Homo sapiens: one gene and its partners. The protein of the gene in region 4 purifies or fractionates together with the protein of the main gene of each other region. This does not show direct contact. Each region holds a gene or a part of one and is shown on either strand. Other genes may lie near its edges. The genes, in order: IFFO1, PPP2R2B, ARMC9, KRT78, HAUS5 and BPTF.

Region 1 (3,500 bases), about 46 Mb from region 4:
CATAATGTGGATTGGACAGAGAGGGTGGGAACTTAGAGAAAGAAGGAAACAGGTTACAGGGCCAGACAGCAGAGATGGTCAGGACAGTGACATTTGGGGTGAGATGGCGGCTGGCTGGGTGAGAAGCCCTAGTGGGGACAGCTTCCCTGGCAGGCTTGGATCCACAGCTGGGGCCCCACAGTAGTGGGAGGAGCAGGACACGGTGACTGTTCAACCCAGGGGGAAAATACAGTGCCACCAGCCCTTGTTCAGATCAGCTGCCTACACCCCAATTTCTCCACCTTGGAAGAACCGGAGTGCAGGGAGCTGGGTTCTGGAACCATCACTCAGGGAGACTGGGAAGAAGGAAATGAACCAAATATATTCTACTGAAATACAAGGCTAGTACTGCCACCAGTAGTCTCTGCATATGTCTATGTCCCCACTTAATTCACAAATTTACAGCAGGAACAAGGTCAGGAGGTGAACGTGCATGTCAGGAGATGTCCTTGACAAGCCACCTTGAAAACTGCAGGCTCGCTGTGTGAACAGACTTGGGGGTGGGACGGGAGGAGACAGAGAGAGGTGAGGAGCGGTGGGGAAGAACTGCCTCCCGCCCACCACTCTGGGCCTTGGCTTTACCTTGCTCCATCTTAGTGACCCTGAGAGATCAAAGGTCACAAAGATAAAGGCACCTTGGGTACTCCTGAGGTCAGCAAGTCCTCCTAACGGTTCCCCTAATGCAGAAGTCCCCAAACCCCAGGCCACGGACCAGTACCTGTCTGTGGCCTGTTAGGAACCAGGCCAAATAGCAGGAGGTGAGCAGTGGGCAAGTGAGTGAAGCTTCATCTGTATTTACAGCTGCTCCCCATCACTGGCATTACAGCCTGAGCTCCACCTCCTGTCAGATCCGCGGCGGCATTAGATTCTCACAGGATCCTGAACCCTACCTTACGTGAACTGTGCATGCGAGGGATCTAGGCTGTGTGCTCCTTATGAGAATCTAATGCCTGATGATCTGTCACTATCTCCCATCACCCCCAGATGGGACCGTCTAGTTGCGGAAAACAAGTTCATGGCTCCCACTGATTCTACATTATGGTGAGATGTATAATTATTTCATTATATATTATAATGTAATAATAATAGAAATAAAGTGCACAGGCCGGGTGCGGTGGCTCATGCCTGTAATCCCAGCACTTTGGGAGGCCGAGGTGGTGGATCACCTGAGGTCGGGAGTTCGAGACCAGCTTGACCAACATGGAGAAACCCCATCTCTACTAAAAATACAAAATTAGCCAGGCGTGGTGGCACATGCCCGTAATCCCAGCTACTTGGGAGGCTGAGGCAGGAGAATTGCTTGAGCCCGGGAGGCGGAGGCTGCAGTGAGCCAAGATTGCGCCATTGCACTCCAGCCTGGGCAACAAGAGCAAAACTCTGTCTCTAAAAATAATAATAATAATTTTTAAAAATAGTAATAAAGTACACAATAAATGTAATGTTTGAATCATCTCAAAATCATTTCCCCCGGGTCAGTGGAAAAACTGTCTTCCACAAACCAGTCCCTGGTACCAAAAAGGTTGGGGACTGCTGCCTAAAGTCATTGCACTGGGAGAGAGGAGGAGTCAGATGATTTGAAAATACTTTTTTTTTTTTTTTTCCTGAGATGGAATCTTGCTCTGTCACCCAGGCTGTGGTGCAGTGGCACAATCTCAGCTCACTGCAGCCTCCACCTCCCAGATTCCAGCAATTCTCCTGCCTCAGCCTCCCAAGTAGCTGGGATTACAGGTGCCCACCACAATGCCTGGCTACTTTTTGTATTTTTAGTAGAGACGGGGTTTCACATGTTGGTGGCCAGGCTGGTCTCACACTCCTGACCTCAAGTGATCTGCCCGCGTTGGCCTCCCAAAGTGCTGGGATTACAGGCGAGAGCCACCACGCCCAGCCAAAAATAGCTTAAAAGGCATGATTCCATTTAAGATATTATTTTCGTTCTTTCAGATCATGTTTTACACTGGGCACTTGAGGTCCAGGGAAGACTAGGGAGAGATGGCAGCCCGAGATCTCTTCTCACGAAGATGGCCGCACAAAGGCCCCTAGTTGGTTGAAGGCACAGTGAAAACACAAACCTTAAATCCACCATCCAAAAGAGGGAGACAAGAATCAGGTCAGGCAGGAGGAGGAAACAGTGAGCCGCGGTAGACGGGAGGGTGGGGAGTACTGGTTTCCCTTGCCATGTCTTTAGCTAGCAGCACAAATCCAGGAAACCTCATCTACCTGGCCAAGAAAACCAGGTTTGATGCAGGAGCAGGACAGTTTGATGTGTGTTGGGAGAATGAGTATATAGGAAAATAATTTCTCGACTTCCTTCTCAAACACCTCCAATGTGACAGCAATAAGAATAAAGTCAAGGCCGGGCGCGGTGGCTCACGCCTGTAATCCCAGCACTTTGGAAGGCCGAGGCGGGTGGATCACGAGGTCAGGAGATCGAGACCATCCTGGCTAACATGGTGAAACCCCGTCTCTACTAAAAAATACAAAAAATTAGCCGGGCGTAGTGGCAGGCGCCTGTAGTCCCAGCTACTCTGGAGGCTGAGGCAGGAGAATGGCGTGAACCTGGGAGGTGGAGCTTGCAGTGAGCTGAGATCGCGCCACTGCACTCCAGCCTGGGCGACACAGCGAGACTACGTCTCAAAAAAATAAATAAATAAATAAATAAATGAAAAGAATAAAGTCACTCTCTCCTTATCCACTGGTTTCACTTTCCACGGCTTCAGGTACCCAAGGTGAACCTTGATCTGAAAATATTAAATGAAATATTCCAGAAATAAACAATTCCTAAGTTTTAAATTGCACGCTGTTCTGAGTGGCCTGATAAAATCTCACTCTCTCTGCCGGGCGCGGTGGCTCACGCCTATAATCCCAGCACTTTGGGAGGCCGAGGTGGGCGGATCATGAGGTCAGGAGATCGAGATCATCCTGGCTAACACGGTGAAACCCCATCTCTACTAAAAAATACAAAAGAAATTAGCCGGGCGTGATGGCGGGCGCCTGTAGTCCCAGCTACTCAGGAGGCTGAGGCAGGAGAATGGCGTGAACCCAGGAGGTGGAGCTTGCAGTGAGCCGAGTTCAAGCCACTGCACTCCAGCCTGGGTGACACAGCGAGACTCCGTCTCGGAAAAAAAAAAAAAAACCTCACTCTATCCAGACCAGGACATGAACCCTCCCTCTGTCCCAAGGATCCACACTGTCTATACTGCCTGCCCATTAGTTACTTAGGAGCCATCTCAGTGATGAGATTGACTGTCGTGGTATGGCAGTGCCCGTGTTCAAGGAACCCTTATTTTTACTTCATAATGGCCCCAAAGCACAAGAGTAGTGATGCTGGCAATTTGGATATGTGAAAGAGAAGCCAAAATATGCTCCCTTTAAGTGAAAAGGTAAAAGTTTTCAACTTAATAAGAAAAAGAATCCGATGCTGAGGTTGGTAAGCTCTACAGTAAGAATGAATCTTCTATCCG
Region 2 (3,500 bases), on a different chromosome or scaffold from region 4:
ATACACACACACACACACACACACACACACACACACACACACACATAATGTATGATGGGGATAGTGGATAAGAACTTTAACTAAAACTGCCTGGCTTTGTCACTTGTGAACTGTGTAAATTTGGTTGTCATTCATCTGTTTCTGTATCTATAAAATGAGAACAACAATAGTATCTGCATCTGGAGTTTTAGGGGTAAATAAGTCAATACATGTGAAATTTGTAGAACAAAGCCTGGCTTATAATAAGTGCTCAATAAATGTTAGCAACTATTGTATGTTAGAGCTGTATTTTAACAGCTCTGGCTTTAGAGTCAGATACCTTGAGTTGGAGTCCTGGTTCCATCTCTCTCGGGCTTTGTGCCCTTGGCTAGGTTGACAACTTGAGTCTATTTTCTCATTTGCAAAATGGAAATACTAATGCCACCATGGGGTCTGGGAGAGGAGATAATGAGATGAGGCATGGAAAGCAATAGTATATTACCCATCACTGTTGTTGCTATTATTAGTTTATGGTGCTTTAAACCTATCAAAATAGTTGTAAGTAAATGGATTTCTTGTTCTCCCAATAACAATTCTCTGAGCTAGGATAGATGTCTTTCTGGCCATTTTACAGGTGATGACACTGACATAGGGACTGAGTGGGTAGCTTAAGTTCCATGGTTACCAGGAGCAGGACCCACGTTTCCTGTCTCCCAGTCTCATCCTTTTTCCACTGACCAGGTTGGTTGCTCCCTTGGAAAGCAGTCCCTGAGAGTTGACTTAGAAGTTCAGGGGGAAGAGGTGGATGAAGGCATGTTGGATGCACAGTGAATCAGGTTGCAGTGTGAATGTTTCTCAGTGGTGTGTCTAGACTTCCCCCATCCAAAGACTAACCAGGCCTGACTCCATTTCACTTCCAAGATCAGATGAGATCGGGTGCATTCAGGGTGGTATGTCCAAAGACTGTGTCAGGGGATTTGTTTTGGAAGTGGGGTGGCATTATTAAAAACACACCGGCTTCATCCACACATTCATCACGGAAGAGGGAAAATTAGTAAGGGTTCCACCATTCAGGCTGTGGACTATAGTGTCATCCCTAAATCCTCATTATGAGGCCTACCAGGGCTTTCTTGAGCCCTGCAGGCAGCTAGCAAAGGGACTGAAAAAGAAATGAGGCCTGGGGTTGTCTGGGGAGGGAAGCTTTAGGCAGTTGCTCTGTAGGCTTGAAGGGAGGGAAATTATGGCTTTTCAAGTCCTTAGAAATTGGGCATTTGAGTGTGTACCTTTTATTATAATGGACCCTAGAATATTCAAAGGAAGTTTAGTGGAGATAGCTGACTTATTTCATTGGGCCACTGAGCTAGCAGAATTTTAGCTTCATCTTTATTCCACCTTGCAATTGTTCCATCTTATATATGCTGGTTGCCTAATAGAAGTTGATTTGGTTGAATTAATTACAAGATCAATGAGAGGTTTAAAGGTGCTTTTTTTTCAATGGAAGAGTAAAGGCAGGAGCCAAACTTGAAGGAGTTAAGAAGCAACTTGATTCCCACTGCCCATCTGCCTTTATATATCCCACTTCTTGATGCTGGCTAGTATCTTCCTTTTTTGTTTTTTCTAACTAATCTTCCTCCTCCTGACAGAAGAGTACGAATGTCTACCAAAGTTCAGCTTTTTGCATTACTTGTTTTTAACGTCAGGAACTGAATGTTGCGCAAGGATGGTTTTTGTAAAAGCCAGGGATGGCGTGGCTTCCATTTTCCTTCATTCAACTGACACCCTCCAGTTGTAATCTGATGGCTCTTACCAAGCAGCAGGCCTTGTGGGGTAAAGTAGTATAGGGCCCTTAGAATCGAACCAACTGTTGCAAGGTAGCAAATCAGCCTTCAAGTAGTTTTTAGTGTCAGCAGGAAAACAGACTGACTTCTATGTGCCACTAACTAAGAAATATTGCCAGTACTGGGGCTGAAAGATCACACATGTAAAATACCTAGTTCAGTACCTGGTAAAGAACAGTTAATTTGTGAAACATCGTGGTGGTTATTGCTCCCTGAGGCCTAATCTCTAGGGCTTTCCCCTCCTGTTCCCGTCCAGGAGTCTTGGGTGTTTGCTCTAATGCATCCTTTGCAGGGGATGGAGGAGAGGATGGCTGCCCTCTGCTCTTTCTTCTCTGGCAAACTCATCCTACTCTGGATCCCAGTTTGTACATCTATATGCTAAGGGTGTTGGACTAGTGTAGGGGCTTTTATTTGGAGTTCGCAGATAAACTGCAAAGGGGCCTATGAACTCCTTAAACCATGACAAAAATTATTCCTGTGTGTGTTATGGGCAGCCCTGCTGACTCTAATATGTGAAGAACCACCATCTTTGATGCCCCTAAGGGCATAAATCTTCTGTCATATCAGTTACTCAGGGTCCCAAAGTTTGATACACATGCTCCTGGTGGTTCACAAAATGATTTCAGGTGGTATGTGGGTGCATGTTTGTTACATTGATAATTATGTGATTAATGTTAGGGAAAAACCTAGCATATCAGAGTTGAAATTTCATGCATATTATTTCTTTGGAGGAGGCTAAGTCTTGCTTTTAAGAAAAGGTGACTTAAAAAAATGTTACATGAGTAATAGTACAAATGTGAGTTGATTCTTAAGTTTGAGATACAATGATTGGTCCCAACCCCCGACGTGGTACAGACAGAGGAGCTGAGTCCGGAGAAGTGGAGAAAAGGCCATAAAGGAAGTCGGTGGTAAATGTAGGCCAATAACCCAGTGGCCTTCTGCAAAATCATCACTCTCTATGACTGGCAGAAGTTTCTGACTCTCTCATGTCTCCTCCAAGAACACTGTCCCAGTCAGGACAGAAATCTTGCCCAGAGAGTTTACACCTTAGCCACTTTACTTGAGATGCCTAAGGCGAGGCTTTCCTTGCAGGAAAAATGAGAAATACTGAGAAAGTCTCGTCTTTGTTCCCATGCTCCCTCAATTCTGAGACGTACTTTTTTACATTTTAATGTTCCTGAAATTGGGCTGCATCTAACAAGACTGTTTTTACCTAAGGTGACAGTTATTTCCTTGCCAAAAAGCTATTAGTAAATGGATAGTAGCTTAGAATTGAGATAAAATGATTCTTTCACTATTTTTTCCTCCTCCAAAGCAAATTACACTTGAAAGTCAGGACTTCTAATACATCTGTAAACTGAAAGAAAATTTCCCTTTCATTGAAAAACTCTCATCTCAAACCATTTACCCTGCACTAAATGGGAGTTAGGAGAAATGAGTCATCAAGACAGATGTAGAGATATTAACCCAGAACCAGTTTTCTGGACTCCACCCATCTACTTTCCTAAGTTTATAAATCCTTTGCATGCATTTAGTGCCTTTCCTAGGGGTGTGCCACATAGAACCTTCTGGAAATGGCTTTCTAGAAGTTATAAATCTGGATCCTCAACTGGGGAAAAGGATGAACCATCTTCCACAGCTTCAAGTGGACTTCATTCACTTCATGTCACAGCTGCTTGATTT
Region 3 (3,500 bases), on a different chromosome or scaffold from region 4:
CTGGGTGAGAGAGCGAGACTCCATCTCAAAAAAAAAAAAAAAAAAAAACAGGAGACCCCCCTAACTAAGACAGCCAGGAGCTAGGAGATGGGGCAGCCATGGGTGTGCACCGGGGTCTTCCTGGGACAGTAGTATCTCTTGCCTGCTGGTCCATTTCAGACAGGGCTGGGCATTTTAACTCCCAGGGCTATGAAGTCCCAAGGCATGTGATTTTGATATTGAAGATAGTCCTGGTTGGTGGGGAAATGAGAATAGCTTTCCTTAGGCCAACGTTCTGCAAAATGCTAAGCCATATTATTGGCCTTTTCCCTTGGGAACTATTTCCTGTTGGCATTTGGGGCTGTCTTTTGCCTAGAATGTACTTTCTGGGCCTGCACTCAACCGATCAAGCAGTTTGAGGGTCCAACAGGTTCCTCCTCATGAGTTTTCCCTGCGGTGCTGACTGAACGCAAAGCGCAAAGGCTCTTCCTCAAGAAACTCAGCGTGAAGGTGGGGGTTTCCACGGGGTCTCTGGGTGGGGCGTTAGTTCCCAGCACAGGCCAGACTCAGCAGCGAGCTGTGTGCAAGGAGACCTGTGGGGAGCGCTGCCTGGGGCCAGGATGGGCCTGGGGCAAGGTGAGTGAGAGAAGGGAAGTGGAGGGGGCCCCATGCCTGTAATCCCAGCACTTTGGGAGGCCGAGGCGGGAGGATCGCTTGAGCCCAAGGGTTCAAGACCAGCCTGGGCAGCACAGAGAGACACCTCTCTCTACAATCAATCAATCAATCAATCAATCAATCAATTGAAGTGGAGGGGAGGGATGGAGAAGCAGGACTGTCTGGAGGAAGTCAGAGCAAGCTCCTGAGCAGGGAAGGAATGAAGCAGAAGGCAACATGGCTCAGGGGTGCCCATGCCCAGCCCAGCACTGCCCACTCCCTGCTGTCCCTGCTGCTCATCCCCCTCCCCCTCATTCATACCCTGGCTTAATGGACTTAACCGCAGTCCCCCTATCTGCAAAGCCCAGATGGAGCACAGAAGCAGAGGGCTGTTTGCCATCCATCCCTTAGGCAGAGGCAGGTGACAGGACAGGGAGAGGGGCAGGGAGGCCAACTGGGGAGACGCAACAGGCCGTGGGCAGGCCTGTCTGAAAGAAGGTCAGAATGGAATCTACTCCAAGCGTGGCAAAGGCTTACTCATGACCCAGAGGAAACTGCACCTGGGGCTTGGTTTTTCCAAAGGAAGAACTTTTTGTCAAGTAAAAGGATTTTAAAGGAGACTAAGAGGGCCAGGCATGATGGCTCACGCCTGTAATCCCAGTGCTTTGGGAGGCTCAGGCAGGAGGATTACTTGAGACTAGGAGTTCAAGACCAGCCTAGGCAACAGCAAACTTCGTCTTTACAAAAAATAGAAAACCACTTTGCCTGGTATGGTGGTGCATCTGTAGTGCCAGCTACTCAGGAAGCTGATGCGGGAGGATCGCTTAGGAATGTGAGGCTGCAGTGAGCTATGACTGGCCACTGCACTCCAGCCTGGGGGACAGAGTGAGACCTTGTCTCAAAATAAAATAAAATAAAGTAAAATAAAATAAAATAAAAGGAGGACTAGGGGTGTTGGCCTGAGGCTCAGAGCGGGCCTGGCAGGGCCAGGGAGGGCAGTGACTATTCCTGGTCTCTGGCAGGTGGAGAAGGGCAGGGCTGCGTGGGTCCGTGTCCTGGGTCCCAGCCAGGCTGAGCCAATAGGAGCAGGCTTAAGGAAGGGACACTCAGAACACGGTCTCAGCATTTGGGGCAGGTTAATGGGGGCACTGACAGCGGGATTTGGGAAAAGCACTGCTCTGCCTCCAGCCGGTCCATCTGGGGGCTGGTGGGCAGCTGCTGCCTCCCTAGGAAGAAGCACTGGCAACCGCCCGTGACCACCAAGGCTGAGTGTCCTGGTGGGTGCCCACCCTGTTCATGCAAGAACCCGGAATGTGCCTGGGCCCAGACTTTGTCAGGGCTAAAGTAAACTGTTCTTGAAAACAACAATAACATCAACATTGCAGCAGCTGCTCCTTGGCCATTTCCATCCATGCCAACCTCAAGTGCCTCCGCCCTGCAGGTAACAGCATGACAGCTTCCCAAAGGCACGTCCAATCAGTGCAAAAATAAAGGGCCTCTCAGTGGTCATTTTGGTAAAGCAAGGATGTTACCGCTACGTTACCCTGAATGTACTGTGGAGCCTTTCAGGAAGTCCAGGCCTAAGAACTTGAAATGTTTTAACTCAATGGCATTCAGTCAAATTGGCAAAACTTTTCAGACGCCCCCTAAGACCTCCACCCTGGCAGCAGAAATCTCTGGATAAATTACTAAGCTGCTCACCTTTGGAGAGCATATTAATATTTACAGCTTTAGTAAAGCACATGTAAAATAACTGATGATCAACGCTGGCAAAACCTCTGAAACTGCTCATCACCAAGAGACCCAGGAGTTGCAAATAACCCAGCCAGTGCTGACTCGTCACTAGCTACCGCTCTGCACCTGGGCCTGGAAGCGTCTGAATCCAATTGTGAGCAGATGCAAGTTCTCAGATGTTTCTCAGACAGGAATCCAACCCGTTCCTCTGTTGTTTTTCCTACTCAAATGGAAATTAGAGTCTTATCTGAACTGCTCATAATCCTTTTAATTTCCTTTCAAAAATTAAAAAAAATACTTTGTACATTTCTGATTCAAAGTATATATATTTTTTCTGGCATCTAAAAAATACTTTTATCTCCCATCAGCCTCTGGTTAACTCAGCTGGAAGTTTCAAAGGCGTTTGGATCCCAGAGTTGTTTGTGCTCTTAGTTGCACATTTCTGCCTCCGTCCAGCCTTCCAGCAGGCGGCTGGCCTTCTCTGCACCAGAATCTGAGCTATCAGAATCAGGGTCACAGATCAACATCAGCCCGGCATTCCTCCTCCGAAATTTCACATTAAAGCCGGCTTTCACCAGTCAGAAATCTTGCCCCAGGAGCTCCCAGACGGGACAACAGGCAGTGCTCTGAGAAGGGGACGCAGAGGACCAGCCCAGCATGGGTCTGGCTGTGGGCTGGGAATCCCGTGAGCCTCTGTGACACGGGGCTGTTGCTGAGACCAGAGGGCTTCCCAGGAGCAGACGTGCGTCTGCCACTCCTGCTGCTGTTTTGCGTAGGTTCTAGACATCACAATCCCAGAACTGACCCAGTGTGCTGCCCACATTCTTACATGAAGAGGAGACGCAGGACTCCGGGGTGCTGGGCTTGCCCTCCCTGTAGACAGCCTCGTGAGCGGCTGGCAGGGCCTGCGGGTGGCCGTTTCTGGCGTGCTGGGCTGTCTGGGGAGGTGTGTGTTGGTCTTCCACCCTGGAGAAAAACATGAAAAACGGCAGTGAGTACAGCCAGCCAGGAGATTCGGACTGCCGACTGCCGACTGCAGCATCACAAATACAGGAGGGGGCGGTGCCTCAAAGTCTTGTTAAACCATCATTAGCATATCAGACCTTCTAAAGGGTCTTGGCAGGAGCCAGGAG
Region 4 (3,500 bases):
AGCATCCGCTGTGGGCTGGCTTGGGCTGTGGGCAGCGGACACGGAGTTGGCCTTGCAGAGCCGGCTGATGGGGGGAGTGGGCCAAATGTGTTCAGGAAGGAGGTGGCTGCTGGGTCGCTCAGTAGGTGATGGATGTCTTCAGACTCGACTCAACTGTCTTCTTCAGGATGGTGTGGCAGCTGGAGCCAGCGCTGGAGCCAGACACAGAGCAGGAATCCAAAACAGGGTCCTTCCCAGAGCCCAGAATGATGTTGGAGCCTCCAGTCACAATGCTGGTGCAGCAGGACCCAGGGCTGCCTTTCCCACTACCGAGTCCACAAGTGCTCCCCAAGCCTCCACCAACTCCTCCAGACATGACAGCGCTGCCTCCCACCGAGGCTGCCAAGAAACGCACCGGGTCAGAGCAGGGTCATCAGCTCCCCATGGGGATCCCATCCCTAAAGTCCCCTGATACTCACAGATAGTGACCTGGCTGGTGCACTCCCCAGACATCCTAGGGGGAAAAGGACAAGAGGGGGATGCGCTAAGGAATACTACAAAGAATGCATCCCCACGAGCTTTTAAGCCCCTCAAAGCAGGTCACCCACCCTCTCAGCAGATAAAATCCACAGTCTCCAACTTAAAATCCCTCTCTGCAGCGTCGGTTGCCCTTAGCAACTCACAATGTCAGGAAATCTCTCAGAATCCTCTTTAGCAAGCAGCTCACTGTGTTGGCATCCCATCCTCCTCCCCAAACTCATATTCCCAGGTCCCTCCAAGCCTCCCTCACCTGCACTCCTCGCCCTCCAGCAGCCTGCGGTAAGTGGCAATCTCCACATCCAGGGAAAGCTTCGTGCTCGTCAGCTCCTGGTACTCGCACAGCAGCCGGGCCAGGTTCTGCTTGGCCATCCTCAGAGCAGCCTCCAGCTCGTCCACCTTGGCCTGAGCGTCCTTGAGGGCCAGCTCCCCACGCTGCTCAGCATCAGTGATGGCGGCCTGCAGGCTGGCGTTCTGGAAGCGGGGTAGAAATGAGCGAGAAGGTGGTTGTAAGTCCAACATAGCCTCTCAAAGCACCCACTGTGGATATCACTTGAAGGCTGGGGCGGATCATAATCTTATGAGCTCAAAATTATCCATGGCCGTCTGTACCAACACCACCCCTGCAACAGGCTCCTCTCATTCTAAGGGAAGGTATTGCTTCCCTCACTTCCTTACCTCCTGCAGTAGGTTGAAGAGTATCCCCCAAAACTTTCATGTCCACCCAGAACCCCAGAATGTGATCTTATTGGAAGTAGGGTCTTTACAGATATAATTAATTAAGGATCTCATGATCATATCGTACCATATTTAGGGTGAGCCCTAAATCCAATGACTGGTGTCCTTATGAATAGAAGAGAGAACACAGAGACAGACACAGAGAGAAGAGCTCATCAGAAGAGAGAGGCAGGGCTGGGCATGGTGGCTCACGCCTGTAATCCTAGCACTTTAGGAGGCTGAGGCAGGTGAATTACAAGGTGAGGAGTTCGAGACAATCCTGGCTAACACGGTAAAACCCCATCTCTACTAAAAATAAAAATAAAAAAATTAGCTGACCATAGTGGCACGCACCTGTAGTCCCAGCTACTCGGGAGGCTGAGGCAGGAGAATTGCTTGAACCCGGGAGGTGGAGGTTGCAGTGAGCCAAGATCATGCCACTGCACTCCAGCCTGGCAACAGAGCAAGACTCCATCTCAAAAAATAGAAAGAAGAAGAGAGAGGCAGAGATGGGAATGATGCAGCAATAAGACGAAAAATGCCAAGGAGCTCCTGAAGCCTGCAGAAGCTAGCAAGACCCAGGGAGGACTCTCGCTGCACCTTCAGAGGGAGCACGGCCCCGCCAACACCTTGACTTCAGACTTCAAGGCTCCAGGACTGGGAGAGATTACATTTCTGTTGTTTTAAGCCACCCGATTTGTGGTGATTTGTCATGACAGGCCTAGGACACTAGTACAACTCCTGTGCCACCTCCCCAAGTGCTCTTTCCCTATTTCTTCCCACCCCCAGCCCTCGGCACCTCTCCCAGGGTGCTTAAAGCTCTTCCTGTACCATGGATCACTATCTGCAAGGCTCCCCCTGAGGGTCACAATGGTTCTCATTTTTTTCAGACAGTCCCATTTCAAATACTTTGTCCTGTTGTCAGAGTACATCAAAACATATGCCTCAATTTGGGACTTGAAAAATATAATCTCTACCGGGCGCGGTGGCTCACGCCTGTAATTCCAGCACTTTGGGAGGCTGAGGTGGGCAGATCACTAGGTCAGGAGATAGAGACCATCCTGGCTAATACGGCGAAACCCTGTCTCTACTAAAAATAAAAAAAAAAAATTAGCCGGGCATGGTGGCACACACCTGTAGTCCCAGCTACTCAGGAGGCTGAGGTAGGAGAATCGCTTGAACCCGGGAGGCGGAGGTTGCAGTGAGCCGAGATCGCGCCACTGCATTCCAGCCTGGGTGACAGAGTGAGACTCCTTCTCAAAAAAAAAAAAAAAGAAAATATAATCCTTTTACTTACAATAGAAAGCTAGAGGAAGGATGAGATCCCTGTCTTTATCAGCCTTACAGTTGATTTGCCCTCACATCTGACTCAGGAAAGAAGGAATTGTCTAAAGGCTGTTATTATCGATTCCCACTCTGTGGATAGAAACATAATCTCTACTCTATAGATGAAGAAACTGAGGCTCAGAAAGAAGAGTGGCAGAACTGGGATCCTAACCCACGTGGGCCTGCACAGGGGAGCCCAGTTCATCATGTTTGTGCAGGAAAAGGAGCAGGGGACAGTGCTATATCTCCAGGAGGGATTCTCCTGGGAAAGGCACATTGCTGTGTGAGGAGCTGTGATTCCCAGACCCAGGTACCCAGTACACATACACACTCCTGCGTGCTGCCACTGGACTCTCAAGACCACATGCTTCAGAACCAGCTGGGCAACCTCATTTAAAAAGCAGGTTTCTGGGCCCCATCCTTAGAGATTCTGACTCCTCAGCTCTGCCAGGAGGCCAGGAATCTGGATCTTAATAGCCACCCCAGAGGACTCCAAAGCAAGGGGTCCAAATTTGTTGGTGAAACATAGTGGCAGCAAATTGAGTAAGAGGATTCATCACATTCATCTCAAGCCCTGCTTCTCATTGCAAACAAGAACCAGGAGGATGGTTCTGGATACTCCAAGAACCCTCCCCAGAGGGCTCTGCTTGGGAGTCAAGGGACCACATGTGACTTTTGAATCAAGCTGTAGTGCTTGAGGAAATGGCCTGACTCTGTGGTCTCTGCTCTCCATCCTCCATTGACACCCAAATTGATATTTTGGGTTTAGGAAATATGAGTGCAAGAATACTTAACAATTTGAGAATTCATAACACTTCACATCTAGAAGTGAGGTCTCTACACCGCAGGAGGAGCAGGAAACGGCCTCCCTCCCCTTGCCAATCTCTTCCTCTATTTCTGACCCTTGTAATGCATCTACCTAAGGAGAAGTTAGCCCCACC
Region 5 (3,500 bases), on a different chromosome or scaffold from region 4:
CCAGTCCCCCACGATCCCCTGCAGCTCAGGGATTCGCTCCAGTGCCTGTTTCAGTAGCTTCTCCAGCCTCTTCAGAGCCTGCCCCAGGTTCTCTTTCTGCTGTTTTTCCTGGGATGCCTGGATCTGCAGCAGCTCTGAGGGTGAGAAAGCCAGGAGGCAGCTTTGAGTCCTCTGGCTCGCTGGTACCTTACAGCAATGAGTCCCCAATTCTCCAGTCCCCTAGTCTTGACCTCAGCAGCTCCCGCAAACCAATGATGAGTCTGTCTCCTTCTCTTCCCAGCCTGGAAGTCCCCTTCTGAGGGACTGCCCTTGAGATGAGGACCTGTCCCTCCTCCCAGATCCTCATCTCAAGGGCAGTCCACCACCCCCAGCCCCATCCAGGCCTCCTTCTGGATGCCTTCCTCCCTCCCCGTGAGAGCCCATCAATCTCCATGGCCTGTCCGCTCAGTCTCCTGAGCGTTTCTTCCTCTCCTCTGCTCCAGGCCTCAGTCTCCTGCTCTGGTTCACCCTCCGCACTACACCACAGTGATCTTCCTGAAGCCTAAATTTGATGCTCTCCCTCCTGTCTAGAACCCTCCAAGGTTCTCCAGTGCCCCCAAGGCAGAGTCCAAGCCCTTCAGCAGGTATTTGAGTTTCATGATGTGGCAAAGCCTGGCCGATTCCCAGGGCCCACAGTAGAGAGTATCTTTCCTCCTGGAGGCCCCTCCAACACTCTCGCTCCAAGGCTTCCTCCTCCGCCTGCTCTAGCTTCACCCTAGCGGTGCTTTCCTCTGGGACTGGGACTGGGCCTACCTCTCCATGTGCACAGAACAGGCCCAGCTCAGCAAGTGCAGACGAGCAGCGTGATCAGACAAGCTGGGCCTGAATCCTGACCCCATCCCATCCCTGCCCTGTGACCTTGATCACGACACTGGCTCTTTGTTCAGCTCCGTCTGCTGTCAGGTGGAATTACTGGGGCAGGGGACCGATGGGAGAACTCTGGGGATGGGACCCTTAGGGCTTGCTGAGAGGCTGAAGCTGGTGAGGGTGGGGGGATTAGGGTGATGGAGAAATTCAGGATGACTCCTGGGTTTCTGGGTGCAGCACTTGGATGAGGAGGGTGAGATAATTTAACAAGGAAGGAAACCAAGAAGAGGAACAAAATTGTTTTTTGGAGTAGAGAGAACCAGGAGTTCCATGATAGATGTGTACAGTTCAAGATGCCCATGATTATAAGAAATATAAAATTAGCTGGGTGTGGGGTGCATGCCTGTGGTCCCAGCTACTCGGGAGGCTGAGGCAGGAGGATGGCTTGAGCCCAGGAGGTTGAGGCTGCAGTAAGCCAGGATGGCACCACTGCACTCCAGCCTGAGTGACAGAATGAGACCTTGTCTCAAAAAAACAAAAGCAAAAACAAAAAACACATGAGGTGGGCAGAGGGCGTGGTAGGCAGAGGCTGAGGTGGGCAGAGGCCGTGTGGGGTCTGGGGCTGCTCTCATTGCTCCTGCACACTGTTCCCTCCCCTTGTGAAGAAGTGGAGGGCAGGGAGCCCCAAACTCAGAGGCTTGAACAGTCTCTTCCTCCAGTGCTGCTGGCACTGCCGGTTCATTTCTCATCAATTCTCCTCTTCCATGTATTTATCCTTTCATTCTTTACTCTTTACTTCCATCTGGGGAAACCCCTGGGGTGGGGACCTTTCTCCTCACTCCCCATCAAGCCATCTGGGCTGGCACCTGGTAGACACCCAGTATTTGGTGAGTGAATCCAGGAATGAATGACTTCTCTAACCTTCAGTTTCCTCATCTGTAAACTGGGGTTCTTAAAAGTCCCTTTCCTCATCGTCATGACTCCAAGAGACTGTGTGTGTACACAGACAATGATGCTAATCACATTGGAGACACAGGGTGCTTACTGCATAGCAGGCAGTGTTCAGTGCCCTGTGTGGGTCCCCTGCCTCAATCTGCCCAGCACCTCGGTAAGATATTGCTTCATGCTTACTCCACTGAGGAGGAAGCTAAGGCACGGGGAGGCCACACAGCTAGGAAGAGACGGCAGAGAGGATTCCCAGGCTTTGAACTGCTGAGGTATACTATGTGACGGTGATGAATGAACACGTGGAAAGTCGACGGCAGTGTAGCTTAGTGGTTGGGAGCACAGACCCATTTCAGACCACCTGGATTCAAATTCCAGCTTTGCCATTTGGGCAACCTACTAACCTCTGCGTCTCAGTTCCCTTCTCTGTAGAATGGAGAGAACAGCAGCACTTACCTTATGGGACTGCCGTGCAGATGAAACAAGGGAGAATGTTTAAAGCCCTTAGCACACAATGGGCACTGCGTAAACAACGGGGTTGCTGGTAAGGACTCGTGGAGGCTGCTGGTAGTGGGAATGGGCGGGGAGGCTGGATGGGGTGGCAGGGCAGACCTACCCTGGGTGGGAAGGCCTGGCGGCAGGCTGGTCTTCATGTGGAGTAGATCCCAGCACCAGAGGCTCCGCTGGTCCTGCAGGAGCAGAAGGTCCTGGCGAAGAGAGGCAGCCGCCGGCAGGAGCAGCTCCGAGGCCTGGAGGAGGAGGGAAGGACGGTCACCTGGGGCGGGGCTGGGGAGACAAGTCACAGGAGACGGGCACTCACCTTCCCTGGAGGCAGCCCCAGCTTGTGGCTCAGCGCTATGAAGCTGGAGCCCCTTGGGGACGCGGGGTGCAGCTGGTGGATGGATGGGAGGACCGTGGGCAGGGGCTTCAACCTACGGGCGGGGAGAAGTCTGGGTTGGGTGGGGACTGAGAGGAGGCCTTGGGTTCTGGAGGCTCTGGGGGCCCAGGAACTTCAAGGTGGGTCTGGGGACTAGGATGCCAAGACCAGGGCTGCTGACCCAAGGGTGAGGTCTGGCAGCCTGGGAACACTGGGGGTCTGGGGTTATCTTTTTTGAGGAGGTTCAGGGAGTGACAGTCACCCATGGCAGGGGATGCAGGGCAGGGGTGGGGCAGCCCCAGTCTCACTCTCCCGGCCTGTGCCGCAGCAGCGTGCCCAACAGAATGTGGGGCAAATGCCGGACTTCCTCCTCCAGACAGCGCAGCAGCTCCCGGCTCTGTGGTGCCACTGCCTCAAATGTAGGGACCACCTTTCGCTGGACCAGAGCTAGCACCTGTGGGGAAGGGGAGGGGTGGGTGGGGCATCACAACATCACAAGTCCACCCAGCCCCATCCTGGCAGATCCAGCCCTACCCAGACCTCACCCCAACTCCCATCTCACCTCCCCCGGGCTCCGGCACAGGCGGGTCTTGCTGGCCGAGTTTCCCTTGATGAGCAGGCGGACCTGTTCCTGGGTCTCCTCCTGAGGAACCAGGATACCCTGAGACCCACTCCTCCCAGCTCCCAGCCTCAGTGTGCCTCTCTGCTTAGGTCCTGCTTCTGCCTGGGAGTCTCACCTGGGCTCTTGCCTAGGAGGCCCAGTTCTTAATTTTTAAGTGACAGCATTCTTTTTTTTTAAGTGATAGCATCTTGCTCTGTCACCCAGGCTGGA
Region 6 (3,500 bases), on a different chromosome or scaffold from region 4:
GGTTTCCTCATGTTGCCCAGGCTGGTCTAGAATTCCTGGGCTCAAGCATCCTCTTGCCTCAGCCTCTCAATGTGTTGGGATTACAGGCATGAGCCACCGTGCCCAGCTAACAGGGTACACTTACACAACTTTCTGTTTTTAGTGGCGTTTCTAATTGCCTTTCATTTTTATCCCTGACGTTCTTTGGCTTAATCATAGCCTTATGTTTTTCTGTCTTAAACAAATTATCTAATGTATGAGTCATTTTCTTGCTCTACTGAGCCTCTGGGGAGTGCTCCATTCTCCTGCTAGGATTTGGTCTGCTGACATTTTACAGCCTGCTGTATAAATGTCATCTTGGGTCAGAGTAATTCTCATTGCTTTCCTGAACCACTTGTTTTCTGAACTCAAATAAACAAAAATTTCTGGCCGGGCACGGTGGCTCACATCTGTAATCCCAGCACTTTGGGAGGCTGAGGCAGGCGGATCACGAGGTCTGCAGTTTGAGACCGGCTTGGTCAACATGGTGAAACCCCGTCTCTACTAAAAATACAAAAATCAGCTGGGCATGGTGGTGGCTGCCTGTAATCCCAGCTACTTGGGAGGCTGAGGCAGCAGAATTGCTTGAACCCAGGAGGCAGATGTTGCAGCGAGCCGAGATTGTGCCACTGAACTCCAGCCTGGGCAACAGAGTGAGACTCTGTCTCAAAAAAAATATATATATATATATATATTTCTGGCCCAGCACAGTGGTTCACAGCCCCAGCACTTTGGGAGGCCAAGGCTGGTGGGAGGATCGCTTGAGCTCAGGAGTTCAAGATTAGCTTGGGTCATAGCAAGACCCTGTCCCTAAATAAAAAGATACATCATGGCCGGGTGCGGTGGCTCACGCCCGTAATCCCAGCACTTTGGGAGGCCGAGGTGGGCAGAACACCTGAGGTCGGGAGTTTGAGACCAGCCTCACCAACATGGAGAAACCAGGTCTCTACTAAAAATACAAAATTAGCCGGGCGTGGTGGCACATGCCTGTAATCCCAGCTACTAGGGAGGCTGAGGCAAGAGAACCACTTGAATCCGGGAGGTGGGGCTTGTGGTGAGCCGAGATCGCGCCATTGCACTCCAGCCTGGGCAACAAGAGTGAAACTCCGTCTCAAAAAAAAAAAAGATACTTTTTTTTTTTGAGATGGAATCTCCCTCTGTCGCCCAAGCTGGAGTGCAGTGGCGCCTTCTCGGCTCACAGCAAGCTCCGCCTCCCAGATTCAAGTGATTCTCTTGCCTCAGCCTCCCTAGTAGCTGGGATTACAGGCATGTGCCACCACGCCCAGCTAATTTTTTTGTATTTTTAGTAGAGACGGGGTTTCACCGTGTTAGCCAGGATGGTCTCCATCTCCTGACCTCGTGATCCGCCCGCCTCGGCCTCCCAAAGTGCTGGGATTACAGGAAGATACATTATTAAAAGGAAAAAATTTGTTTCCTTATTTTTGACAGCACACTTTTTTTTTTTCTTCTGAGATGGAGTCTCACTCTGACACCAAGGCTGGAATGCAGTGGCGCAATCTCAGCTCACTGCAGCCTGTGCCTCCCGGGTTCAAGCGATTCTCATGCCTCAGCCTCCTGTGTAGCTGAGACTACAGGCGTGCACCATTATGCCTGCCTAATTTTTGTATTTTAAGGAGAGATGGGGTTTTGCCATGTTGGTCTGGATGGTCTTGAACTGCTGACCTCAAGTGATCCACCCACCTTGGCCTCCCAAAGTGCTGGGATTACAGGCGTGAGCCACCATGCCTGGCCAATAGCACACACTTTTTAAAAATACCTGCCAAGAAAGGATGCCCTGAGTCCTCACATGACTGAAAATATATTTATTCTGCCTCTAAACTTGACTGGCTGCACAGACTTCTAGGCTGACAATCATTTTTTCTTAAACTTTTAGATTTATTCTTCCATAATCTTCTAGCACTAAATGTCACAGCAGAAAAATCTGACACCAATCTAATTCTTGTTTTATAGATTGTCGGTTTTATCTAAGAGTTTCTTTTATTCTTAGCATTTGGAAATTTTATAGCGATGTATGTAGGGGTGAGTCTTTTTCCATTTGTCTACCTGGTTTATGATGTTTATCAACTGTCCCCCTTGCTCCACCCACCCCTCATAGAGTGCAGGGGCTTTAATTTATTCACTGCTAAATTCCCAGTATCAGGCACACATCAGGTTCTCAAAAGTTATTTGCTGAGTGAAGGAATTTATTCTGCTAGAATTTAAAGTCCTGTGACAATCATCAGCTCAGGAAATTCTTCTTTTATTCTTATTTTTTTTTTTTTTTTTTTTTTTTTTTTTTGAGACAGGGTCTCACTCTGTCACTCAGGTTGGAGAGCAGTGGTGTAATCACAGCTCACGGCAGCCTTGAACTCCTGGGCACAAGTGATCGTCCTGTCACAGCCTCCTGAGTAGCTAGGACTACAGGTGCATGCCACTATGCCTGGTTAATTTTTTAAATTTTTGTAGAGACATGGTCTCATTATGTTGACAAGGCTGGGATGTTCCCCCCACCTCCTGTGAGAGTCTCATTGTCACCCAGGCTGGAATGCAGTGGTGTGATCTTGGCTCACTGCAACCTCCGCCTCCCAAGTTCAAGTGATTCTTGTGCCTCGGCCTCCCAAGTAGCTGAGATTACATGCGTGCGTCACCACACCTGGCTAATTTTTGTATTTTTGGTAGAGACGGGGTTTCCCCATGTTGGCCAGTCTGGGCTCGAACTCCTGACCTCAGGTGATCTGCCTGCCTTGGCCTCCCAAAGTGTTGGGATTACAGGCGTGAGCCACTATGCCCGGCCACTTCTTGAATTTTCAAAAAAAGACTTTAAGTAGATCAACAACAAACCCAGCAATTTGTCCACTTCTCCTTGGCAGTAGATCATAACCCTGGAGTCTTGATTTATTTATTTTTTTTTTAAAGATATTTAAGGTTAAATTTACCATAAACTGCACTGGTTGAATCGTTAGACAGAATAGTATAAAGAGTGTGAAGAGTTGAATTAATTCAGAATACCGAACCCATCTGCTCACCTGCTAGCTTTGAAGCCTTTCAATTTCTGTACAAAGAATGATTCGAGAACTTCTGCACACTGGTAAAATGGGGAGTCACTTGGATTGTAGTAACGACAGTTATCAAAAATTTTGGTCATATCTGCCACAAATTCCGTCAGCTTTTCATAATATCGTCTTTGTACTCTTTCTTCCATGGTGGCAAGGTCTTAAAAACACAAAATGTAAAACATTTTCAGAGCTTTAAGGTTTTTCCAATGTGAATATTCTCCGAAGTTCTAACAAGTATATATGTTTACTGTGCAAGCAGTCCTGGAGCCAGGCTGGTTCACCCTGGAGGTTATTTTGCAATTCATAAAGAACAAAAGAGTACTTTTCCAATTTTGTTTCTGATTGAGGTTCTAAAATATAAATCCGGGTTGCTGTTAAGGTTCTTTTACTTTCAGGTAACTGCACAGAACCGTTCTTCATTCAAAT

The links.
Region 1: the proteins of KRT78 (region 4) and IFFO1 purify together in Homo sapiens (affinity purification with mass spectrometry; one large-scale study listed by BioGRID and IntAct). This does not show direct contact.
Region 2: the proteins of KRT78 (region 4) and PPP2R2B purify together in Homo sapiens (pull-down; one large-scale study listed by IntAct). This does not show direct contact.
Region 3: the proteins of KRT78 (region 4) and ARMC9 purify together in Homo sapiens (co-immunoprecipitation; one large-scale study listed by IntAct). This does not show direct contact.
Region 5: the proteins of KRT78 (region 4) and HAUS5 purify together in Homo sapiens (affinity purification with mass spectrometry; one large-scale study listed by BioGRID and IntAct). This does not show direct contact.
Region 6: the proteins of KRT78 (region 4) and BPTF purify together in Homo sapiens (affinity purification with mass spectrometry; one large-scale study listed by BioGRID and IntAct). This does not show direct contact.

The regions. Positions count from the first base shown.
Region 1 is NC_000012.12:6,542,543-6,546,042, forward strand, and holds part of IFFO1 (non-homologous end joining factor IFFO1), read right to left. Parts: intron 1-3,500. UniProt on the Homo sapiens protein: Nuclear matrix protein involved in the immobilization of broken DNA ends and the suppression of chromosome translocation during DNA double-strand breaks (DSBs).
Region 2 is NC_000005.10:146,585,258-146,588,757, forward strand, and holds part of PPP2R2B (serine/threonine-protein phosphatase 2A 55 kDa regulatory subunit B beta isoform), read right to left. Parts: 3' UTR 1-3,500. UniProt on the Homo sapiens protein: The B regulatory subunit might modulate substrate selectivity and catalytic activity, and might also direct the localization of the catalytic enzyme to a particular subcellular compartment.
Region 3 is NC_000002.12:231,355,631-231,359,130, reverse strand, and holds part of ARMC9 (lisH domain-containing protein ARMC9), read right to left. Parts: intron 3,334-3,500; coding exon 3,197-3,333; intron 1-3,196. UniProt on the Homo sapiens protein: Involved in ciliogenesis. It is required for appropriate acetylation and polyglutamylation of ciliary microtubules, and regulation of cilium length. Acts as a positive regulator of hedgehog (Hh)signaling.
Region 4 is NC_000012.12:52,838,995-52,842,494, forward strand, and holds part of KRT78 (keratin, type II cytoskeletal 78), read right to left. Parts: intron 991-3,500; coding exon 770-990; intron 494-769; coding exon 459-493; intron 379-458; coding exon 119-378; 3' UTR 1-118.
Region 5 is NC_000019.10:35,619,235-35,622,734, reverse strand, and holds part of HAUS5 (HAUS augmin-like complex subunit 5), read right to left. Parts: intron 3,312-3,500; coding exon 3,231-3,311; intron 3,123-3,230; coding exon 2,977-3,122; intron 2,724-2,976; coding exon 2,612-2,723; intron 2,541-2,611; coding exon 2,408-2,540; intron 2,313-2,407; coding exon of another isoform or gene 2,296-2,312; exon of another isoform or gene 2,248-2,295; intron 135-2,247; coding exon 2-134; intron 1-1.
Region 6 is NC_000017.11:67,975,503-67,979,002, reverse strand, and holds part of BPTF (nucleosome-remodeling factor subunit BPTF), read right to left. Parts: intron 3,232-3,500; coding exon 3,045-3,231; intron 1-3,044. UniProt on the Homo sapiens protein: Regulatory subunit of the ATP-dependent NURF-1 and NURF-5 ISWI chromatin remodeling complexes, which form ordered nucleosome arrays on chromatin and facilitate access to DNA during DNA-templated processes such as DNA replication, transcription, and repair.